3 separate regions of the Homo sapiens genome follow, and regions 2 and 3 are each linked to region 1. The links come from fine-mapping of genetic effects on gene expression. A gene starts in region 1. Each other region holds a variant in brackets. All regions are shown on one strand. Distances are between the middles of the regions.

Region 1 (5,000 bases):
ACAGAACTAAAGGAAGTGGGGGCTTTGGTTCATTCACTATCAGCCATCAAGTTATGCTATTTCCCATCCTTTTAATATCCTTAAAATGGCAAGGTCTGTGTTTATGGTTTTGACCTTGAAACTGAAGTAACAGCTCTACCTATTCTCCCAAAGTTCCAGATATACTTTGGGGAACTTTGACTTCTGATAAGACAGCTGGGGTAGGGGGTGAGGAGAGGGTTGGAAAGTTCTACCTCAGTGAGAAGATTCTTGGTCAACTAGAGGGAGTGAGGGCTATCCCACAAGACCTCCCCTTCCCCCACAGGATGCTCAGGACTTCTTCTCAGCTAGCCAGCAGCTAAGCTGGTAGGGCTGAGAACGGCATTCCTTTGAAAGATCTTGGCAATTTGTGCCTGGAAGTTGATGCATTAGTTCTAAAATTAAACAAAGATCCTGTAGTGTTCTTCAAGGAAATATGGTGTGCCTCTATGACAAAACACATTTTTCAAGCTCTGACCTCTGGGAGCTTCAACTAGCTCCATATTTCAGGCTGACAATGCTCACAGGCTACTGTCTAGTTGCCCAAGCCAGGGCTGGTTAGCCATATATTTTCTACCTCCATCAGCTTTTAGCATAGGGAGGTGAAGGGAGTAAATAAAAAGAGGAGAGCCACTAATTTACATGCACTTCCCCTCCCAAGACCCTTGGGGAGAAGCCTTGGTAATTAACTCTAATGAGATTAAAGTAACTTGGAACTCTTCATTTTCCCAGCACTGTAAAACTAAATCTGCGATAACCAGTGTGTGGGCATTAAATCAAAGTCAGTCCTTTTTCCTGCTATTTAATGGCCCCCTCACTCCCACCCCACAGCCCAGGCTTAAGAGCGAGGGGGAGGGCTGCCAGGCTCTTACCGGCACTTTGCTCCATCACTTCTTTCTGACACATGTCTTGAACGTTCACCGTGCAATTCACAATGAACTCGGGGGAGGAGCAGTCGTTGTTCAGCTGGAATTCTTCACACTGGTAGCACTGGATTTGCAGCGCAAAGCCTGCGAGACAGACGCAGTCGGGTTCAGATCCGGCCCCCACAGAGCCCACCCCGGAAATCACGACCATCCCACGCCTCAGAGCCAGGCGGCTCCCAGCCTCTGGCAGGCTTAGACCACTCCTGGGTCTCCGGGTAGGGCTGGATGTGGCTGACACCGGCAGGGGGCGGCGCGGGTACCTAGGGTCCTACGGAAGAAAGTGGAATAGTGCCCGCCACCCCTGGACCCCGGCTCTAGACACAAAGCGCCCATCCATTACCACCCCAGGCCTTTTCCCAAGAAGTTGAAGGGAGGGTGGGGACGGTACCACCGCAAGAGTGAAGTAGCTCTGGAGATGTGCGTTAGCTCCAGCCTAAGCCAAAGGATTTGCCTAATTGCTAATTGGTTACAAATTACTTAATTACTATTTTGGCACCATTCGTGATTACATTCGCAGACGTCTTTTTAGTTTTTATTTATTTAATTTTTAAAGTCAGCGTTTCTGTGCCAGGGCTCTGAGGATCCCTGAGCGACCACCTGGGAACAACTTGGGTGGAGGTGCCAGACGCCAAGCGCTGCTGCGCCGCAAGTCCCCGAGCCCGGGTCGGCGGCCCTTCTCCGGGGCCGTCCCCGCGGCGACCCGAATGGCCACAGAGGGTGGGAAAGGGCGTTTGTGAGCGCGCGCACCCTGGATCCCCGACCCCGCAGCCCTTTCTTCCAGGCCCCGGCTTTCAGGACAACCGTTCGACTAGGGTCAGTGGTCGGGGTTCCAGCTCTGCAGAGCTTAGTCGGGAGCCAGTAGGCGAACTGGAGAGAGGACGCGAGACCTTTGCGCCTCTGGACGCTTCGGCCTGGCTGTTCTCGGTGTACGCGCTCCTGTCTAGACCCAACTACCCACGCTCCCGCAGCCCCACATCTATCGCACTCTGAGCGCAGCAACCCAGCTTCAGCGTGGCCGCAGGCTGCCTCGCGCATCGCTCACCTGTCGGCGGCGCCACTCCCACGGGGTGCCGGAGGCGCCAGACAACTTGGCAGGGTTCGGGAGATGTCGCCCCCTCTCCCTCGCCCAGAACCCAGCACCGCTCGGACCCTCCCTCCTCTCAAGCCCAGCTTCTCCCGACGGTGCAGCCGGACAAGCTGCAGCCCGGAGTCCCGCAAACCCGCCGCTCCCCGCTCTCCTCCTGCAGCGCGGGACTTGGACACTTTCCCAGCCTCGCGCCCCGGGGCACCAGTCGCGGCCGCCAACTCCCGCTGGGCAGCCCCAGCGCAGGGCTGGCCCCGAGGTGGGCGCCTTGGGGGCAAAAGGGCTGGCGGGTAGATGGATTGTGCGCACCTGGCCTCGGCTGCTGGCCTCTGGGTATTCTCACCTGGAAGCAAGAACAATCCGCAAAAAGTTGCCGCGATGCCTAGGACCCACATTCTCCCGGAGTCCCGGGGCCGGGAGAGGGCAAGCGCATCAGAGGAGGCGACAGCAGCGGAGGCTGCCCCGGCTGCAGCGGCTGTGGCTGCCGAGGCTGCTGGGGCCCGCGCTGCTGCCGCGGAGACGACGGTCGTAGCTTAGAGGAGCCGCAGGTGCCGCTCGCGGAGCCTGCATCGCCCGCGCTCGGGCTCCCGGCTGCGGGTCTCTGCTCCTCCCGCTCGCGCTCCCGGGCCGAGCACCGCGCCTCCGGAGTTGGCGGCTGAGACTGAAGGAACTACTGGCGATCGGGAGCACCCACAAAAGTCTCGCCTTTTCTCCCCACCTCCCACTCCAGGCATCACGTGACGGCTGCCGAGTTGGGGTGGGGGTGGCGGGCGGGGAAGGCTGGGACGGTCGCTTCACATCCCCACCCCCTTCCTGTCTTCCTCTTCTCCCGCCTCCGCACGTTCCTGGGAAAGGGGCGCCGGGGGGCGGGAGAGAACTGGTAGTTTTCTGAGATGGGGAGGTTGGGGGAGCGGCGAGGAGGGCGCAGCAGGTGCCGTGGGGACCTGCCGGGTGCGGACTAGGGTCTGAGGACTGCGTGCCCGGCTGGCCCTTCGCACATAGGAAGGCAGCCTCCCCACTCCACGTCCTCTGCGCCTTCCAGGACTGGTCGGTACCCCAGCGACTGGGTCCAGCCCACACAACTGAGGCTGTCCCGCTGCGGGCCGCGGGAGCCTGGCGCCCCGGGAGGCTGACAGGAAGGGCGCGCGTTCCCGTGCGCCTGGCAAAGTTCCACGCCCGCAGGCTCCGTAGGGTGTCCTGTGCAGCTGTGCCCCCTCTTCCTCCGCGAAGGCCTTCTGTCAAGAACCAGCTCGGCGTGGCCAATCTGGGTGGGGGTGTGGTGGGGACACTGCCTTAACTGTCTCACTTGCCCGGGCCGCCCTCCCTTCTCCCGCCTGCGCGCACCGCTGGAGGGTGCATTGACACCGCCCTGGTCGCCTAGCCTAGGAGAACGCCGTCCCGGGGACACCTGCCGTGAGGTCCTACCAGAAAGCAAATCAGGGTGAGGAAGAGGGTTGTTCTCCTCCATTCCTTGTCTCCCAAACGCCAGCCGGCTCCATTCTGCTTTCCCCAAAGCCACCGATTATTAGCACATACTCCCACGTCCTCTCCTGAAAGGCCATCCCAGCCTCGGACTCGGCCTCTGGCTGCTCCCCACACCCCTCAAATTCGTCTTCTTTCCGCAAAGTCCAAGTGACCCACCTTGCGGACTCCCGGGGATGCCCCGGTGCTATCTTCGCCTTCCTTCCCGAGCCTTGCAGCAGGTGGTGCGGGAGACCGCTTGCCCGCCGGAGTGCGTTGGTGCCCCCGCCCCCAATCCGCACATTCCCATCCCCTTTCCGCACATCCTTAGGGAGCATCCATTTCCGTGGAAATCGCCTCCTAAGCTTTAGCTCCTCTTCACCCTTTTCTCCCCCGGCCACTTCTGGGGGCAGCTCTCTCACGCCGGGACGCTGATCATTTATTTCTGCATCCTCCCAGCAGAGCTGGTCTGTAAAGGGGCTTAAATGACTTTCTTTGTAATTCCTCTGCAGAGATCGTTCCATATCTGCCTCAGGCTCCTTCTCTCCCTCCCTCCCTCCCTCTCCCCCTTCTTTCATTTCTATTTGGTTAACCCCTCGGGGAGACTGAAATGCTTTGACCATTACTCACCTGTCTGCAGACTCTGATCTTACAATTGGCTAAATTACTATCTCTGGAGCAAAAGGGCCAATTTATTTATTCCTTCTGGGAACCCATTGTAAGAGCACGTGTGAGTCATGATTCAAGTAACTGACTGGGCCAAAAGGTCCTTGAGCAAGTTATTTTCTGTTTTCAGAGGGTGCAAATGTGATATAACTTTTATTCAGAAAGGAAACAAAAAGATTTTTTAAAGTCTGAAAGACAAGGACATTTTACATAATTTTCATTTAAGATAAAATAAAACAAATTGCACAAATTAACCAAATAACACTGATCATACAATACTCTTTAAAGAAACAATTATGTGCTAAAGTAGCCATATAGATCCTAAAAATATTTCTATTGGGCCTAGTTTACAAGCTCCTGTACATAAGTAATTATAAATAGTTCACATCTAGAAAAAATACACATAACCTTTAAAATAGAATTTATCCTTACATATAAACAGTCTTTGTAGAAAAAAAAGGATATTAAAAAGAATTCTTCGTAGCACCATTAATTTTATTTTTAAAAGTGAACATTGCAAATAGAAATTTGTTTTCATTTTTAGAGTGCCCAGATTTTAATAAAAAGAGCAAGAAGATAAAAATCAAATAATATTCAGGATCATAGAGAAGCACTAAGTAAAAGACAATCTAAAGAAATGTCTGGAAGGAAAAACTGGTATTGGGAATAGAATTCGGTCATTTCTGATACAATGTCACACTCCCAATCAGTGTCCACACTTCAGGACCCTTTTCATTTTTCAGCAGAAGCAGAATGACACTTATTACTATCACCTGAATCTCTGGCAACGAATCTGAAATTACACTAAAATGAACATTTCCATCAAATTGAGATTTGTGAGATGG
Region 2 (5,343 bases), 68 kb before region 1:
GAGCAAGGTGTGGTAGTGAGGGCGCTGGTGAATTGCCGCCATCTCTGATTTCTAGTGGGTTGAGGAGTGCAAGACCATCATGGCGTGTCAGCAGACCATTCAAGCTGGTAAACTGAGGTTGGGATCCAGCTCCTCCAACTCTCCTTGATAAGCTAGACCTGCCGTGGATGTGATCTCCCCAGGAAAATGACATTTGGAGTCCCTCTTAATAACACCACAGATCTGCTCATGGATGAGATATGAGTGAAAGAATCCTTCTTAGATACTGGGTGTCTACCCGCAAATGCTGTCCATCCACATTGACTCTCCACATCATAGCTCAGTCTCCCAAAGGGGGCCCATCCATGCTTGTCTATACTTTGGAGGTTACCATTATCTTGGCTACGCAGAAGCCCTATGAAAAAGTAATCACAATCTGTATAAATACATGAATATTAAACAAAATGTCCCTGAACAACCAGTGAGTCTATGAAAAATTCAGGAGGAAATCAAAACATTTCTCGTAATGAATGAAAATAGAAACACAATATACAAAACCTATGGGATACTGCAAAAACAGTGGTAAGAGGGAAGTTTATGGTAATAAGTGCTTACATTTAAAAAGTAGACAGATTTCAAATAAACAACCTAACAATGCACCTCAATGTACTAGAAAAGCAAAAACAAAACAAACCTAAATTAGTAGAAGGAAAGGAAAATAAAGATGAGAGCAGAACTAAACAAAATAGAGGAAAAAATACAAACAATGAATGAAACATTTTTTAAAAAGATAAAATTGACAAAACATTAGCTAGACTAAAAGAAGGACTCAAACCAGAAATGAAAAAGGAGACATTACAACTAATATCACAGAAATACAAGGGATCATTAAAGACTATTATGAACAACTACATGCCAACAAATTTGAAAATCTAGAGAAAATAGATAAATTCCTGGACACATATAACCTACCAAGATTGAAATAAGAAGAAATAGAAAACCTGAACAGACCAACAATGAGTAACAAGATTGACTCAGTAATAAAAAGTCTCCCAACAAAGAAAAGACCAGGACTGGATCACATTATTTCTGAATTCTACCAAACTTATTTTGTTGTTGTTTAAAAAAAAAAATCAATAGCTTTAGGGGCACAAGTGGTTTTTGTTTACATTGGTGAATTGTACAGTAGTGAAGTCTGGGCTTTTAGTGTACCTGTCATCTGAATACTATACATTGAACCCAATAAGTAATTTTTCTTCTCTCACCCTCCTCCAACCTTCCCTCCTCTGCATCTCCAGTGTCCAGAATATGCCCCTGCATATCCATAGTTTAGCTCTTGCTTGTAAGTAAGAACATGTGCCCACCAAACTTTTAAATCAGAACTAACACCAATTCTTCTCCAACTATTTCCCCAAAATTGAAGAGGCAGGAATTCTTCCTAATTGATTTTATGAGGCCAGGATTTACCCTGATACCAAACCAGACAAGTACACACACCTCTAGGTGAATATTCTTGATGAACATAGAAGCAAAAATCCTCAACAAAATACTAGCAAACCAAATCTAACAGCACATCAAAAAGATAATACACCCTGATCAAATGGGATTCATTCCAGGGACGTAAGGATGGTTTAACACACACAAATCAATAAATGTGATACACAACATCAAGAGAATGAAGGATAAAAACCACATGGTCATTTCAATAGATGCAGAAAAAGTATTTAACACAATTTAACATTCCATCATGATAAAAACTCTAAAAAACATTAGGTATAGAAGAAACATACCTCAACATAATAAAAGCCATATATGACAGTCCCACCGCATATATCATACTGAACTGGAACAAGACAAGGATGCCCACTTGTACCACTCTTTTTCAACATTGTATTGAAAGTCCTCACCAGAGTAATTAGATAAAAGAAAAAGCATATACACTGAAAAAAAGGCAATCAAATTGTCCCTCTTTGCAGACAACATGGTCTTACATATAGGAAAGCCTAAAGACTTCACCAAAAAACTTAGAAATGATAAACAAATTCAATAAAGTTGCAGGATAAAAACATGCAAAAATCAGTAGTGTCTTTATACACCAATAACGACCTAGCTGAAAAAGAAATCAAGAAAGCAATCTCATATATAATAGCTATGAAAAATAGTTAGAAATGCATTTAACCAAAAAGGCTAAAGATATCTGCAATGAAAACTACAAAACACTGATGAAAGAACTTGAAGACAAAAAAATTGGAAAGATAACCCATGCTCATGGATTAAAAGAATATTGTTAAAATGACAATACTACCCAAAGCAAGCTACAGATCTCTATCAAAATACCAATGACATTCTTCACAGAAATAGAAAAAAAAAAACCTTAAATTAGTATGGAACCACAAAAGACCCCAAATAGCCAAAGCAATACTGAGCAAAAATAACAGAGCAGGGAGCATCATACTACCTGACTTCAAAATATACCACAAAGCTATAGTAACCAACACAGCATAATGGTATAAAAACAGACATATAGACCAACATAACAAGAGAATCCAGAAATAAATCCATATATTTACAGCCAACTGATTTTCAGCAAAGGTGCCAAGAATACACACTGGGGAAAGGACACTCTCTTCAATAAATGGTGCTGGGAAAACTAGATATCCAAATGCAGAAAAATGAAACTAGGCTCTTATCTCCTACCATATACAAAAATTAATTCAAAATTGGATAAAGATTTAAATAAATGCAAGACCTGAAACTATAAAACTACTAGAAGAACACATAGGGGAAATGCTTCAGGATGTTGGTCTAGGCAAAGATTTTTTGGGTAAGACTTCAAAAGCACAGACAACAAAAAATAGGCAAATGGAACTATATCAAACTAAAAAGCTTCTGCACAGCAAAGGAAACAATGAAGTGGGTGAAGAGAAAACCTGTAGAATGGGAGAAAATATTTGCAAACTATACATCCAGCAAGAGACTAATATCCAGAATCTACAAAGAATTCAAATAACTCAAAAGCAAAAAACTGAATAATCTGATGTAAAATGGGCAAATGATTTGAATAGACATTTCTCTAAAAAAAAAGACACAAGTGGCCAATAAGTATATGAAAAAAATTCAACATCACTAATCATCAGGGAAATACAAACCAAAACCACAGAGATCAGAGACCTTTTTAGCCTAGAATGGCTTAAAAAGA[G/GA]AAAAAAAAAAAAAACAAATGCTAGTGAGATTGTAAAGGAAAGAGAACTCTGACATACTGTTGGTGATCATGTAAATTAGTACAGCTATATGAAAAACAGTATGGAGGTTTCTCAAATAACTAAAAATAGAACTACCGTATGACCCAGAAATCCCAATACTGGGTATTTATCCAAAGGAAAGGAATTCAGGTTATCAAAGAGAGATCTGCACTTCTGTGGTTATTGCAGCACTAGTCACAATAGCCAAGATATAGAATCAACCAAAATTTTTATAAAAAGATGAATGGATAAGGAAAATGTGATGTATATATGCAATGGAATACTATTTAGCTACAAAAAAATAAAATTCTCTCATTCACTTTAACATGAATGGAACTGGAAGAAGTTAAGTGAAATATCGGGCACAGAAAACCAAGTACCACATGTTCTCACTCATGTGGGAGATAAAAAAAATTGACATCATAGAAGTAGAGAATGGAATTGTGGTGATCAAGAGTCTGATAAGGGGAGGAGAGGATCTGGAGAAGTTGGCTAATGGATACAAAATTACAGCTAGAGAGGAGGTATGAGTTCTAGTGTTCTATAGCAGTGTAGGATGACTATAGTTAATGATATATCGTATGTTTTCAACAAGCTGGAAGAGTGGATTTGGAAAGTTCCCTACACAAAGAAATGAGAAATGTTTGAGGTGATAAGCATGCTAATTTCCCTGATTTGATCATTACATACTATATACATGTACTGAACTATCACTCTGTATCTCATAAATATGTACAATTATTACATGTCAACTAAAAAGAGGAGAAAAGGTGATCACAAAGGGTGTACATTTGTGGGCGTGCGTGTGCGAAATGGGTTACTAAAATCCACTGAAGTCAGGAGCTATTCACCAAAAGCTGAAAATGTCAACATTCTTTTTAAGAAACCATTTTCATGCCTCCAGCCTTTGAAGGACTCAAGGCCACTGACTTATGCTAAGGACAGAAAAGACACTGTGTTATTTAGGCCTGATTTTTAAACAATGCATTATAGTGATGGCAGAGTGCAGGGTGTGGGGAGTGGGAGGGACAGGAAAATGTATGTGCACATTTGTGGATGTGAACATGTGTGTGTTCATGTGTGTTTGTGCTGACTGTGGAGGTTTGCATAAATATACTTCACAACCCAACCAAGGACTCCTACCTCCAAGATCCTTTTCCTTAACCGAGACATGCTTGCCCTACTGTGAGTCCCAGGTTGTTCCAAGCATGTGTGAGATAACCTATCCCACATGAGAAGGTCAGGTCTGGCTCTCAGTTCTGTACACCACTTCACAAGGTCACTAGTCTTGTCATTTTCTTAACTTTCTCCTTCTGTCTTCCCTCAGCAGGCAACTCATATCTGGGCACATGATAGATGTCTATCCCCTTGCCAGAATGATTTAAAAAAAAAGAAAGGCAAGTTCTTTGTTTAAACTACCGAAGCTCTGAGAACTGCCTATCAGAAGCCATGGCTGTGGAGGGTATTCATTATCACCAAAGAAATCTTTGAGTTCTGAGCTATAAGGGCATAAAAGACACTGGCCTTGGCATCACACAAGCCAACAGACCTGGGGAGAGAATACAACCTCTACACAGAAGGATCCAATTAAACACAGCATACAGTCCCATGCTGGGTACTGCAGACAAAAAGACGGTTATGACTTGTCTCTTGAGAGGTCTGCTATCTGATGGCAGAGACAGACTTTTAAACAACTAACCATAAAGCAGAAGGATAAGTGCTGCTTTTATAGAAGGTTATATATAAAGTCTTATGAACATATAAAAAGGAGGCCAAGTCATTCTATCTGCTCTGCTTAAGGCATATATCTCAGAGAAAGGGACATTTGAATTAGACTTTGCAGACAAATAGGAGTTTGCTAGGTGAGAAGCAGCAGGAGAGAGTTTTAGGCAGAGAGAACTGAAAGAAGTAGAAACATGAAAAATGCATGGTGCTTGGAAAGTAAGGAGCAGCTTAATGTGGCTGAAGCTGAGGATACGTGGATGGCTGGATATAGAAGGTAAGAAATGAAACTACATAACAATAACAATGAACACTTACTGAGTACTTACCACATGTCAGATATCATACAAAGTGCTTTACATATTCATTTACTCTTTATAAGATACATGTGATATAGGTACTG
Region 3 (5,343 bases), 29 kb before region 1:
ATTGCTTTACATACTGGAGAAACATGTACAGAAAGAGGAGAAATGGAAGCAAAAAAGGAAAGGTGGGGAAAAATAAGAGGAAAGGGGAGGGAAAAAGAGACAGAGGGAGAAAGGATAGGAGAAGAAAGAAGACAGGATGAGGAAGAGCTGTGTGTGGAAATAAGTGGGACTGGCAGGACGGTTGTCTAGGAGTGGAACCAGAGGGAGGGAGTTTGGAGCTACCGTCTGCTTTGACTGTAGACACTGATGAAAATGTGATGCTTTAAAGGCTTCAGTGACAGTGCTAGGGTCCCTACAAGTGCCCACTGAGCCAGGGGCTCCACCTCAATTTATGCTTCTCTTAGACCAGTGTTCTCCAACTTGTGTGAGCAGCAGAGTCAACAGAGGGCTTGTTAACCCCAGATTGTGGGCCACACCCTCAGAGTCTCTGATTCAGGAGATCTGGGTTGGAGCCTAAGAATTTGCATGTCTAAGAAGTTCCCAGGTGGCGCTGATGCTGCTGTTCCAGGGAACACTCCTTTGAGAATTCTGTCTCAGCCGTTAAAGACTAAACCAAGGTTGGTGCTGATTTGGACGCCTCGGGTCAGACAAGGTCAGTGAGTGAGATCAACATCTCAGCTGACTTGCAGAAGCAGATTGCAAACACTAACATATAAATTGAGAAAGTGCTAAAATCTTTTATTGGATGTATTTGTCTCTTTCTGGCTCTTCATTCAACTAACCATATGCTTACTTTCCACTGGCAATTGCTATTTAAATGTCAGTTGACAAGCAGATGCTTCTCACCCTACTACATGCAAGTTAATTTATTGTCCACAAAGCCTGATGGAGTGCTCTCTAACCATGCTGGTTTCCCACTGTCCCCACCCACCCTTTTGTTGCAACCACGCTGAGCCTTGCAGCTCACAGAAGGTAAGTTGCCTTTGTGTTTCTCCATCCCCTGCTCATGCCCTGTCTCTGCTGGTGCTGCCCTTTTCCAGGCTGACTCTTACTCTCCTTAACTTTCTGTGTGAATGTTCTTGCCTGTGGGAATGTTTATCCAGCTCTTGTTGCTGCAGTGTTGTTCGGCTCAGACCATTCTCCTAGCCCTTAGAAAACCAGGCTGGGGCCACCTTGTACAGCTCAGCTTTGTATCATCAGTCCCTAGGACAGGATCCTTAATAGGCCCCAGCCATCAAGAAGCAATTGCCAAGTAAATAAGCAAAGTACAGAGAACTTGAATGGGGGGATAAAAGGGGGATAAGGGCTGGGGGCTGGTGGGGAGGTGGAGATGTCTAACCCTTGCTCACTATGGTCAGGATTAGAGAGAAATTGAAAAATAGAGACAGGAACAGGCAGGAGGAGGACAGAGCAGACATAATAATCACAGAAATCCTAAATCATCATCAACATACCCCTGCACCCTCAAGGCTTCAATGATTCCATAAAATGGGACTCCAACAGTAAGTAGAAAAGCTAATATTGGGAATTTATTTAAATTACACAAAATATCTTTGCTTGGGAGGTGATCAACTTTCCAGATATTTTGTGCTTAATACAAGCTAAGTATCCATTTTTAGTAGGTACTTATGTAAGATGGATGGACGGATGAATGGGTAGAAGAGAGATGATAGATAGACAGATGGAGTCATTGTAGGCTAGGTCACCAAGTCATGACCTGAAGTAATATTTTGTTTTAATCTTCTTTGGCTCCCTTGGGCTGGGACTTTACCTTCCTTTGAGCAGGAAACGTTCTCCAGAGTTTTGCCAAATGCCTGTTCTTGGAGGACCCGCTTCTAAAACTGAAGCAAGACAGTGCATAGGAAAGGTGTTGTATAGACATGCCACTTGCTGCATCCCATGCTGTCAATGGTCAGCACTTGAGTCTAAAGCTGGAAAAAAACCCTAAAATTACAGTTAAAAAAAAATAATGGGCTTGCTTGGCAATCGAGGGTAGAATCAATCCAGTGTTCTAAGTAGTATGACCACCCTGGCCCCAGGAGATCTTGGGCAAATCACTTAACCTCAGTTTGCTCATGTGTAAGACAAGGGAGTTACAAGGCTGGTCTCAAGGTCTCCTCTTGATCTCCTGATCTCTAATGACTCTAAGATGGAATTCTGGGGAACACACTAGTAGTTACTTTGACTTTAAAGGTTAGAGGGGAGAAAATAGAGCATGGTGTCAGATACATCAATGCCACCATGTCCCAGCCTGCAGAGCTTAATGCACTTAAGATGAAACCAAGCAGGCTGCCTCTAATGCTGTTGAAATGTCAGGCTTCAGTGCAGGGTGTTGTTAGACATCTGCATTTCTTCTGTTTTTTAAACAACATGACTCTGCCAAGAATGAATCTGTGTCATCATCTAATGGCTCTTGTCATTTTAGTGTAGTGATCAAGGAGGAAAAATGAAAGTACTTTATGTGGAAAACCAGATAAGAAGGTATTTCATAGCCCAGAGTGCAAGGCTGTCTGGAGTATAATACAGATCTATCAGTAATTCAGTTAAAACAGTTTACCTGCTTTACATGAGTGGGTTCAGTTCATTGATCTTCATTCAAGTTCACACTAAAGTTATTTAACTGTGGGCTGCACAT[T/G]ACACCACACAGACCAAAGAATTATAGATTTTTTCCAGATGTGATATACAAATCCAAATTGTGATTGCAGCCAAACATGCATTTAGTCAAATCTTTAATACACTCTATTAGGGCGTGAATAAGACTTTAAAGCTTTGTCTTAGCCACAGGGTAGCTGGGCTAGAGTAGAGCCAATCGCAAACAGCCAGAATAGAAAGTTACCTTGGGATGCAGTATTTATTCTCAACGGTGTATCATCTAGAACAACAAACTTTTTTTAATGTAAAAATGAGCAATTACTTGTCATTATAAAATGACAAATTTTACAAGGGGTCAAATTTGGTTTTCTTCCCCTGAGAGGCTCACCTCCATTACCGTGCTCACTGGTACATGTCTCATGTTTGTCATTGGCTGTACCTGTATGCCTAATGCTCCATTTTCCTAGAGCAAAACTATCTTTCAAAACACAGGAAGAAAAGCGCCAGCCATTTTCCCCACCTCCAGTTGAGGCAGGGGAAGTTTATCCCAACAGCCCTGCCAAGTAGTTGGCATGATCTGCATTATTCTAGGATAGCTAGGCAAAGTTTAGAATGAGAAATGCAAAATACATCCTTGTGTTTTCAGGATTATATAAGTTTTAAATGATTTAGAGTTCCCTTATATGGAAGGCTTTCTAGGAAAAGACTGGCTAACCCTGTTCCTCGCTATAGCTGAGAATGCATACTCAGAGATTTAATTCAGCATTGGTTGCATTGTAGTGTAACAAATACAGGCTATGTGGGAGGTTCCTTGGGGCTTCCTTGGTTTGATATAACTCTCTGGAATGTGGTTGTTAAAGGGACAGTTGGGGGAATGGGAAGAGGGGGAGCCTTGCTGCTCTGGGGAGGGGCTAGGAAGGATTCTTTTAGTGGGTGCTGTCCAATACTGTAGACACTAGCCACATGTGTCTCTTCCCAACTGAGGCATACTGTAAGAGTAAAACCTATACTGGGTTTCAATGACTTAGTATTAAAAAATGTAAGACATTTCATCAATAATTTTTATATTGATTGCATGTTGAAATTACATGTGAAATAATTATTTTGGGAGTGTATCGGATTAAACAGCAGTATTAAAATTGTTTTCACCCATCTCTTTTTCTCTTTGAATGTGGCTGCTAGAAAATTTAAAACTACATATATGGCTCACATTCTGTATTTCCAGTGAACAGCACTGTGCTATATCCATTTTACATGGTGGAATTATGGTGTTTACTTTCTTGCTTGTGTTTCTGTATTTTTCAAACTGAAAGTATGAATAGCAAACAATATTGTGTTTTGAGAAAAAAATACACAGCATGGATTTTGGAGTCTGGCAAAGATGTGTCCTAGCTATTGCACTTGGGCAACTAACTTTCTCTGAGCCTGCACTTCCTCATTTGTTAAATTAAGAGAATAACTATTTTGACCTCACCAGGTCAAAGCTCTCCAGGTTGTTGTCAGGAGTGAGAAATGCATGGGAAATTAGCAGAGTGCTTAGCACAGAAACTGGCTTAGGAAAAACTCAGTAATAAATATTCTGCATTATTATAGGTTATTTCAAAACACCCATCTGGTGCACAATATGAAAATCTCTGCATTTCTAATTCAGGTCTTTGTCTCTCTTGTTCTACAAGTTTGTTCTTGCTATTATATCTACCTACTTTTACACCCAGAAAACCAAACTTCCCCTTCTTTGCCTCATCATTGTGACTCTGAGTTGGTTTTCTGTTACTTGTTCACACTGAGCTTCTTCCCACTTATTTTTGACTTCAGAGCAGGAATTTTATCCTGGCTACAAACAACACCACAACTCTTTATCTACCCCTGCCTTTGCCTTGTACCTGGAGGCTGGGTCTTGCTTTTTACTGAACTCTGCTGCTTTTGATGGGATGATCAGTGAAGGACAGTTGACACCAGGCCAGTGCATGTGGGAAGCTGTCAGAAGAGTAAGGGTCATGTAAACAACAGATCAAGAGAATGAGGAGCAAAGACAGGGCAGAAGAAAAGCAATGTTATCATTCTCTCCCCTTGTTTCACAAGCCTGCCTTATCTTCTCATTGCCTTTGTCTGTTGGCTTTAAAAGCTGTGCTATGTTCAGCTCATGGTTAGTACAAGGTGTTTCTAATTGCCTTTCTGGATTCTCACCGCCTGAAGTACAACCTCCCATGGTGTAGCACAGTTCACATCTAAAACCGTGCAATTTCCATATTCTGGGCAATAACTCCTCAGATGAAGATGGTTGTACATGTTCTCTGAAATTCAGTGACAGGAAAGAGAAAAAAAATGCAAAACTTTGTGAAAATATGTGGCTTCCTCAGGTATGGTCTTTTTCCTAGTTCTTTCACAATTAATGAGATGAGCCTCTCAATCAGAGCTGGATGAGATGCAAACAAGGAGCAGGAACTTAAGATGAATTTGGAATAGCACAAGTGGCTGGGAACACCTGTACTCCTCGAAGTGGGAGAAAAGTCCCGGATTTCTTATGTATTTTTTTAAAATCAGAAATTTTTGTTGTTGCTGTTGTTGTTCCTATCCAGCATCTGTAACTAGGTGATTCAGAATAAACTCTTGAATTAAGATGGTATTTTTTTAACCATTTTTTCATCAGATCAATATGTTAGTTCACTTATTTTAGTTTTAGATTTACTGGATGTTCTCAGGATAGCAAACTCAAAGGAAAAAATAAACAAATTGGCTTATATTTCAAAGTTTTAGGCTGGGAGTTGACAGGAGAAACCTGTGGAAATTAACAAAGGAGAAGAGTTTCCA

Which allele goes with the higher level. Alleles are on the strand shown, and positions count from the first base shown. SD is a standard deviation of normalised expression in the study named.
As copies of G replace GA in region 2, the expression in prefrontal cortex of the gene that starts at base 2,696 in region 1 goes up (small effect, 0.31 SD a copy in ROSMAP).
With allele T in place of G in region 3, the expression in tibial nerve of the gene that starts at base 2,696 in region 1 is higher (small effect, 0.27 SD a copy in GTEx).

What was found. PIP is the estimated chance that this variant, and not a neighbour inherited with it, causes the effect. A credible set is the group of variants that fine-mapping cannot tell apart.
Region 2: its variant is the best candidate, but not a certain one, in a credible set for the expression of LYPD1 in prefrontal cortex (ROSMAP, PIP 0.59).
Region 3: its variant is the best candidate, but not a certain one, in a credible set for the expression of LYPD1 in tibial nerve (GTEx, PIP 0.51).

Annotation. Positions count from the first base shown.
Region 1 is chr2:132,667,510-132,672,509 of GRCh38, forward strand. LYPD1 (LY6/PLAUR domain containing 1) reads right to left here and starts at 2,696. Exons shown (of 3, transcript NM_144586.7): 1 at 2,372-2,696; 2 at 891-1,028. The coding sequence starts at 2,423. It overlaps NCKAP5 (NCK associated protein 5), which reads right to left. Exons shown (of 20, transcript NM_207363.3): 20 at 4,279-5,000. RefSeq lists an enhancer at 1,559-2,522.
Region 2 is chr2:132,599,693-132,605,035 of GRCh38, forward strand. All of the region lies in intron 1 of GPR39 (G protein-coupled receptor 39), which reads left to right. Among named protein-coding and RNA genes, the nearest start is that of LYPD1, 68 kb to the right of the region's middle. The variant G/GA (reference allele first, on the strand shown) is at 3,179.
Region 3 is chr2:132,638,029-132,643,371 of GRCh38, forward strand. All of the region lies in intron 1 of GPR39 (G protein-coupled receptor 39), which reads left to right. LYPD1 (LY6/PLAUR domain containing 1) reads right to left here. Exons shown (of 3, transcript NM_144586.7): 3 at 5,258-5,343. Among named protein-coding and RNA genes, the nearest start is that of LYPD1, 30 kb to the right of the region's middle. The variant T/G (reference allele first, on the strand shown) is at 2,576.